Homo sapiens: one gene and its partner. The protein of the gene in region 1 purifies or fractionates together with the protein of each later gene. This does not show direct contact. Each region holds a gene or a part of one and is shown on either strand. Other genes may lie near its edges.

The links. The genes of interacting proteins can lie anywhere in the genome.
Region 2: the proteins of ZC2HC1A (region 1) and USP16 fractionate together in Homo sapiens (co-fractionation; one large-scale study listed by BioGRID). This does not show direct contact.

The regions. Positions count from the first base shown.
Region 1 is NC_000008.11:78,668,256-78,673,430, reverse strand, and holds part of ZC2HC1A (zinc finger C2HC domain-containing protein 1A), read right to left. Parts: intron 1-5,175.
Region 2 is NC_000021.9:29,027,668-29,031,502, forward strand, and holds part of USP16 (ubiquitin carboxyl-terminal hydrolase 16), read left to right. Parts: intron 1-205; 5' UTR 206-246; coding exon 247-307; intron 308-2,927; coding exon 2,928-3,106; intron 3,107-3,835. UniProt on the Homo sapiens protein: Specifically deubiquitinates 'Lys-120' of histone H2A (H2AK119Ub), a specific tag for epigenetic transcriptional repression, thereby acting as a coactivator.

The DNA of each region.
Region 1 (5,175 bases):
GGGTATGTACCCAAAGTATTATAAATCATTCTACTATAAAGACACATGCACACGTATGCTTACTGCAGCACTATTTACAATAGCAAAGACTTAGAACCAACCCAAATGCCCATCAATGATAGACTGGATAAACAAAATGTGGCACATGTCTACCATGGAATACTATGCAGCCATAAAAAAGAATGAGTTCATGTCCTTTGCAGGGACATGGATGAAGCTGGAAACCATCTTTCTCAGCAAACTAACACAGGAACAGAAAATCAAACACCGCATGTTCTTATTCATAAGTGGGAGCTGAACAATGAGAACACATGGACACAGGGAGGGGAACATCACACTCCAGGGCCTGTCAGGGGGTGGGAGGCAAAAGGAGGGAGAGCATTAAGACAAATACCTAATGCATGTGGGGCTTAAAACCTAGATGACAGGTTGATGGGTGCAGCAAACCACCATGGCACATGTATACCTGTATAACAAGCCTGCACGTTCTGCACATGTAGCCCAGAACTTAAAGTAAAATTAAAAAAAAAATTAAAAATAATTTATGTAGTTTAAATTGTGAAACTTCACATTATAATGTTTTCTTTAGTTTCATTGGTAAGTTGTCAGTTGCTGTAAAACAAATTTCTTACTGTAATTTGAAGTAAGAAAAATTATCAATTAAAATGGGCTTAAGAGTTACCAGTGGGCAAAAAGACCAGAATAAACACAGAAAAGTCATAATTTAAGGATAACCAAGCTGATTAGTTGGAAATATGTAGTTTTCTTGTAATTATTTTAACCAAATCAATTTGTCATGTTCTTTTATCTTAAAGGTTATCTCTACGGTAAATTACTAAACCTTAAAAACAAAATTTATCTTATTAATCTCCAAGGCATGAAGAAATACTGCTGGTGATCAGTTAAGTGACATACTGAGTTGATCTGCAGAGTGTAGGGTAAAAAAAATCGTTTTCTCTTTATCACCAGATAATAGAAAGCATACTGCTATAAGGTTAAGATCACCTAGTTATGCAAACCGCATGTATTATTTGAATTGTTATTTTATACATATGATACTTATATTAAGATTAATTGGACCAAGGGGTTAAAATATTCTGACCTCACACACACAACTAATTAAATAATAAAGTGGCTGTACCTTTCTCTCAATTAAAATAATCATCATGTGCCTGGATATAAATTTTATTACTAAAATAATTTTTAAAAAAATATTAATAGAATCTTCTACCCAGATCATGATAAATACCTTAGGCCTCAGAGTCAAAAGCCACATTTTGCTCTAATTAAATTCATTAAAAGACATGACAGTATAGTTGAAAAAGCACTGGAATTTGTCTTACATTATCTAACTTCAAGTCCCCAGCTCTGTCACTGAGAACTATGAGTCCTCAGGCAAGATACTTAAGCTCTCTAAGGTTTAGATTTCCTTACATAAAATAAGGAAGTTAAGTTAAATGACATACGGTCCCTTTTTATCTGTAACGTACGGTAATTTAACAAAATCTACCTTAAGACTACATTAGCAAGAAAAGTACATGGAAGACATCTTTCTTACTGACTTTTTAAATAAAGTTTATATATAAGAATGATTAAACCAACTGCAGATGGTAGAACGAATGCTTCAGGTAGTGTACACCACATTAAGGAAATAACTTCCACTTATCTACACAGAGAACTGAGAACCTGAAAGGACCTACAGCAAAGAACTCCTTGTTAGAGAAGCCTTTAAGACATGAATTAGAAAGAAATATATGATAATCATATAGGCAGACTCAGTTTAACAACAGTTAAATGAGGCTAATATCTGCTCAATTTACTTTAAAATTTCAGAGGATCAATTATTACATATAAAAATGTTTCATAACCTACAGAAATAAAAAATATTACTTTCCAAGGCATGCAGGCAATCTCCACTAACCTTTCCTAAGTGGCAAAAACTAGCAAATTTTGCAGCTTATAAAAATACAAGAGAAAGATGATATTCAGAGGGGTGATTATTGGTGAATATTATATCAGAGAGCAAATACTGTTGAAATAAGCACTCAAGGTGATGGATACAACCAAGTCAATAAAGTACTTTAATATTCTAGAACTTTTAAGAAGCCAATCTCTCCTTACAAAATCTATCTGGCACACACTGTTGATTCTGTTATGAGTTGCTTATGTTTTGCAACTTCAAAACCTGCATGATGGTAAGACTTGAAATGGTATCTTTATCTAACACTATAAGTGATGAGAAATAAAGATTTTATTTCAAATAGTTGTGACATTTTAAAATGCATACATTTAAGAACTATGAGAGAACATTTTCAAAGAAATCTTGGAAATTAAGAACAGTTCTGGCCTCCCTTGTGGCATGTCCATCTCCTCACTGCTGGTAAGTCTTATATTCTATCACCGTTCATTTGACTCCTTTAACACTCAACAAATCTTTCTTCTGAAGCACTAAATATGTTATATCACTTTCTTCCCAATATCCTTTCCAAAATCGAATTACTTTCAGATCAATATTATCCAGTGTCTCAGAAGATTTACCCTTTTCAGCTCATCCTAGAAGAGTTTTTGTCTTAACCTAGTCAATGCCTACCCGACTCAACACACAACCTTCATCCTTCACAGCATTTTAGTCACCTACACTCTAGTTCAGCAAAACTACTGCCAAAACAACCAACTCTGGACTTTAAAACACTCAAGTTTCCTCTTTAACCATAGAATTCTACCTCCTACCTTTCTCTAAGTTACTATCTTGATCTCAGAGTGACTTGCTTTTCTTAATAAGTTCATTCCTGGCTGCATGTCCTTTCCTACCCAGTCTGAACATGACCCATCATTTATACTAGGAATTATCCACGAATCCCTTGCTACATGGCCAAATGTTTGGAAAATGGTACATTAACCTAAGTTAAATGGGTTCTCTTAGAGCAGAACTCCCTTAGTCTTAAAAAAAGAAGCTTAGTATGTTGTTATTTGCCCAAATTTATTTTATCAGAAATCCTTTGTACTCCCAAAACCAATGTTCTCCACCAATGTCCTGATGAGCACATTTTTTGAAACACTAACTTACATTTTCTGCTTAGTCCTTCTCTGCCTCTCATTCACTCACTGTCTGAACTGCAGGGAGACATTATCAGGCCAAGCACTATATTGAAATACATCCATTCCGCCGAGTGCGTTGGCTCACACCTGTAATCCCAGCACTTTGGGACGTCGAGGCAGGCAGACCACCTGAGGTCAGGAGTTCGAGATCAGCCTGACCAACATGCAGAAACCCCATCTCTACTAAAAATACAAAATTAACTAGGCTTGGTGGCACATGCCTGTAATCCCAGCTACTCCGGAGGCTGAGGGAGGAGAATCGCTTGAACCCAGAAGGCGGAGGTTGTGGTGAGCCCAGATCATGCCACTGCACTCCAGCCTGGGCAACAAAAGCGAAACTCCGTATCAAAAAAAAAAAAAGAAAGAAAGAAAGAAAGAAAGAAATACATTCATTCCTTGATTCAATAAGTATTTGTTGAGCACCTAGCATGAGGCAGAAACTGTTCTAGGAGGTAGGAGTATAAGGATGATAAAAAACAAATACTCTGATCTTATAGAGCTTTCACTGATCTAACAGGGAAAAAATGAATAAAAACTAATATATAAAATGTTACATGGTGATAACCACAATGAAGGTAGAACAAAGTAAGGGGAGAAGAGATGGTCATAATGCTGTCTTGGAGAAGTATGGATAATCAGGGAAAGTTTGTTTAATAAGGACACAATAATGACATTAAAAAGGAAGGTAACGGATTACTATTTACTAATTGTCAAATCTGAAGCTCTCTTTTGAATCCCCATCCTACTGGGCCTTTCTACAGTCTGAGCCACTGCTGACAAATCTCTTTCACCTTTAAAGTCCTTTCTCTCTTGGCTTCAATGTTTCCTTCGCTCCTCCCAAGCATGCTATGTTTTACCTATACTGGACCTGCTAACATGCTTTTTGTGATTTTCGCCATCTAACAAACACACACTGAGAGGGCCTCCTATGCACTAGGTACTTAGCTAAATGTTTTACATATATTACATTATTTAATACTTAATATAATTTAGGTAGTTACATATTTAATAGCTCCATTTTTTTCATAGCAGGGAAAATAAGGGTTCAGATTAAGTAAACTGCCCAAATCATAGAGCTAAAAAGAAACAAAGCAAGGATTCAAACACAGTCCTCTCCAATATACTGTCTATTAAAATATCTGGCATCCAACTCACTACCAAAAAGCAGTAAATGCTAGATAAATTAATAAAGATAAAGAATTATACAGTAAACTAGTATACATTTATACTACGAAAAAATAAAACAAAACAGAAATTTTGATGAGACACGACTATCTTTAAACCAAGGGCTACACTGAAGAGCAATCAGTCTTCTAATCAAGTTTTAGAGGGCAGTACTAAGATCTAATAATTTCAACAATCCACAAGAGGAACGGACAGTCTGATCTCTGCCACAATTTTTATAACCATTTATCAGGGATATGAAGGGAATGACAATACTGTATATAAGGATAAAATCTGCTTAGATTTTACCATCTCTCCATTTTACAAATAAAAAAAGCTTATAAGAGATTGGAACTCTCTCAAGTCTAGAACTACTTCTATTATCCTTAGATAGATTTTGTGGGGCACAAATTTTATTAGATGAAAAGGAATTAAAAGGTTTTGCTATAACTATCTACAGAATGTAGAAGTGCTCAGATATTGATTCTACAAAAACAGATAACTTATATTTCATTTCAAAGTATAGTGTTTGAGCCTAATACCTCATCTATTGACTATTCAAGAAGCATAAAGACCCTGAAGACCAAAAGTAAAACAAATGGTATATGATTACATGCAAATAACGTAAGTTATAAGAAAGAGTAAGATTATCTTTAATAGAAATTTTCAAGAGTCCATATATTTTCTTGTTTTATAGCCAAGATTAATGTCTGGTAACTGGTTTCAACTAGAAACATATGTCTAATGCCAGAGTACAATATTTACGCAATTACTCTGACACATTAAGCAAACTTTTGAATATTTCTTACTGGATACTGCAATATAATATTTATTAAACACCTTCAAAGTACTAGACTTTAACTTCCAATAGAGGTAAGAAACTACCTAATCTATCACTGTATCAATGTTTCT
Region 2 (3,835 bases), on another chromosome or scaffold:
TTTCCTATGCTATGAAAAACGGGAGATAACTATTCTATCTACTTGAGTTCCTGTTGAAAATTAGATGATTATATGTGATTGGTCTTTGTAAATTACAATGTGATAGACATGCATAATATACGTGGCTTAGTTATATTACTGTCTCCTAGAGAAATATAAGACATACTTTTTTTTTTGGTCAAGCTAACTTTATCTTGTTTTCTAGATTGTTATTTTGTGTCAGTAAGTAATCCATAAAGTGCCAACATGGGAAAGAAACGGACAAAGGGAAAAACTGTTCCAATCGATGATTCCTCTGAAACTTTAGGTATATTTCATTGATTGAATCTTTAATGTTTATATCTCTAAATGAATATGTTTTAAAATGTAAAAATGGTATAAAGCTGCATATTATTGTTATATTATCTGCATTTTAATATAATGTTTGTATCTATATGTCATTTAATAGTCTTCTACTTTTTTTTTTTTTTTTGAGAAAGAATCTCGCTCTGTTGCCCAGGCTGGAGTGCAGTGGTGCAATCTCAGCTCACTGCAACCTCCGCCTCCCAGGTTCAAACGGTTCTCTCGTGCCTCAGCCTCTGAGTAGCTGGGATTACAGACACATCCCACCACAGCCAGCTAATTTTTTTTTTTTTTTTTAATAGTGACGGGGTTTCCCTGTGTTGGTCAGGCTGGTCTTGAACTCCTGGCCTCAAGTGATCCGCCTGCCTTGGCCTCCAAAAGTGCTAGGATTACACGTGAGAGCCACTGCACCTGACTTTCTACATCTTTTTTGTTTTTTTTCCTGAGACGGAGTCTGGCTCTGTTGCCCAGGCTGGAGTGCAGTAGTGTGATCTCAGCTCACTGCAGCCTTTGCCTTGAGGGTTCAAGCGATTCTCCTGTCTCAGCCTCATGAGTAGCTGGGATTACAGGTGTGCTCCACCACACCCAGCTAATTTTTGTATTTTTAGTAGAGACAGGGTTTCACCATGTTGACCAGGCTGGTCTTGAACTCCTGACCTCAAGTGATCCGCTTCCTCAGCATCCCAAAGTGCTGGGATTACAGGCGTGAGCCACCGCGCCCGACCTTCAACAACATTTTTAATGGCATATTATTGCATTTAGCAAAGACCATGGATGTATATTTCATAATTTATTTAGATAATTTTCTACTGTTACAGATTTAGGTAATCTTTAACTTTTTAGTATTATGAATGGCTCAGTAGTAAACAACTTTATAGCTAAATCTCTCTGTACATCCAAATATTTTCCTAATACACATACATAATTTTTGAATCGAAGGGTGTAAACATTTTTAAGACTCTTTTGATCCTGTTGCTAAATTGCCATCCAGAAATGTTTTACTAATTTCCAGGCCCCCTATTAGCGTAGTAAAGTGCCCATTTCCCTGAACCTTCATCGGCACTGGTTAGTATCATCTGTAAACATCTGTGCTGATTTGGTAGTTAAAAAAGGTTACCTTCTGACCAGGTGTGGTGGCTCACGCCTGTAATCCCAGCACTCTGGGAGGCCAAGGCGGGCAGATCACGAGGTCAGGAGATCGAGACCATCCTGGCTAACACGGTGAAACCCCGTCTCTACTAAACATACAAAAAATTAGCTGGGCGTGGTGGCGGGCGCCTGTAGTCCCAGCTACTTGGGAGGCTGAGGCAGGAGAATGGCGTGAACCTGGGAGGCGGAGCTTGCAGTGAGCCGAGATTGTGCCACTGCACTCCAGCCTGGGCAACAGAGCAAGACTCCGTCTCAAAAAGAAAAAAGAAAAAAAAGGGTACCTTCTTTTTCTAGTTTGTATTTCTTTGACTACTGAGATTTGGTAGTTTTTCCACCTGATCCCATTTGCATTTATATTTCTTTTCTTGGTGCAAGATCATTGGACATAAAGCTAATTATGCCACTTGACTAGTTTCTAAACCTCCAGTGTTCCTGGAACAACTCAGCACTGTAGAGTGGTTTGCAAAGCTCTTTACTTATCTTGGCCCCAACAGAGTTTTCAGCCTCAGGTTCAACTGCTCATTTTTGCACATTGTGTAACTCCATCATCTGGGGAGACAGCATGCACTTTCACATGTTTTTGTTCTTGGCATGGGCATTTTCAGATTGCCCTTCACTCCCTGAGGTCGCAGTTTAAAGTGTGAGCTATGAAGTCTGAAAGACTTGAGTCTAAATTCTGGCATAGATACTCAGTAGTTATGTGGGTACTAAATCTTAGTTTTCTCATTTGTCATTGGGAATAATAGTGTCTTCTAGGGTGATTGTAAGGATTAAATGGGATAATGTATTCAAAACATTTAACAAAGTTCATAGGACATATTTAATTAATATCAGCAATTTTTATTACTATTATTATCTTCTAGGATTGCACAGATGTTACCTCCCCTGTGAAACTTTTGGTGACTTTAGCCTTCTCTGCTTGTGCTGCTATACCATGTTTCGGAGATTCTTATACATTAATTTATTTAGCTGCCTTTCCTTCCAGAATGTGAGCTACTCAAAGAAAACAGCTGTGACTTGGTCAATTTTGGGCTCCTGAGCGTCTAGCACAGTGCCTGCCCTATAGTAGGTGTATTATTGACTAAATGAAGGACGTTTTCTACAAATCTTTAAAGATAAAGAGAATCATAAGTATGATAAAGGGCCTTAATTTAAAGGAAATAGCCAAATAAATTGAAATGAATTTGTAGTGGGGGACAGTGGTGGTTATATTTAGGACTTCAAGAAAGCGAAACTTCACAAATTTGTGTCAAATCTCTTTCTCACATATTTATCTCATATTATTCAAATATCAAACAATTTTAAGTTCAGAATATCTTAACAGTTTATAGAGTAAATTTCATTTTTGAAATGTGAATCGAGGGTAAGTTTTGAGATTAACTGAAGAAAGTCATTTTTGACCTTATATATTCCTTGTCTATTATTTGTTTTAATAGAACCTGTGTGCAGACACATTAGAAAAGGATTGGAACAAGGTAATTTGAAAAAGGCTTTAGTGAATGTGGAATGGAATATCTGCCAAGACTGTAAGACTGACAATAAAGTGAAAGATAAAGCTGAAGAAGAAACAGAAGAAAAGCCTTCAGTTTGGCTGTGTCTTAAATGTGGCCATCAGGTATGCTTACGTTTTAAGATCAATATGGGATTTTAGAAAACTCTTTGAACTTACTTTAGAAGGTATTACCTGAAAGTACAGTATGGATAAAAGGATACTAGTAACATAGATCATGTTCTCTGGAGAACCAGTTCTGAGATGTGTGTATAGGTGGTGGAGTGTTCTCTGGTACCACACCAGTAAAAGTAAGGGAAGCAAGATTAAGCATAGGGAGAAGTTGAATGAAGAGGCAGTGGCAACAGGGTCTCAGCCAATCCCACAGTGATCTCTTGCCTGAATTGAGGCAAGGAGCTAGACCTTTCTACCTGTGCATAGACCAGTCATTGGATGTGGCCTGCCCCTAGAGCAGGAAGTAACCTTGGGCAAGGCAGCTCCCTTTTGTTGAGACTGATTCCTGGGGATGGATGGACTAGACTGTGAGCTCTCAGCCGGCCACATTCTCAGCACCTGGGGGAATGAGTAGTACCTTGATCTTTGGCAGTGAGGGCATGTCTGGCTGGCACATCACAGTATCTACTCTACCAGCTCACAGTTATTACCGTGGTACTAAAGTCAGGGTCTCTCAGTTACCCTTAGTGGTGGCAAGTTAAGCTTATATGTTAGGAAATTGGGCTACTAGGCAGTAGTCATGAAGTCATGAGGCTTCAAGATCAGGCAGATAGCCAGTTTTTTGTTGTTTTTTTGAGATGGGGTCTCACTCTGTCACCCAGGCTGGAGTGCAGTGGCACA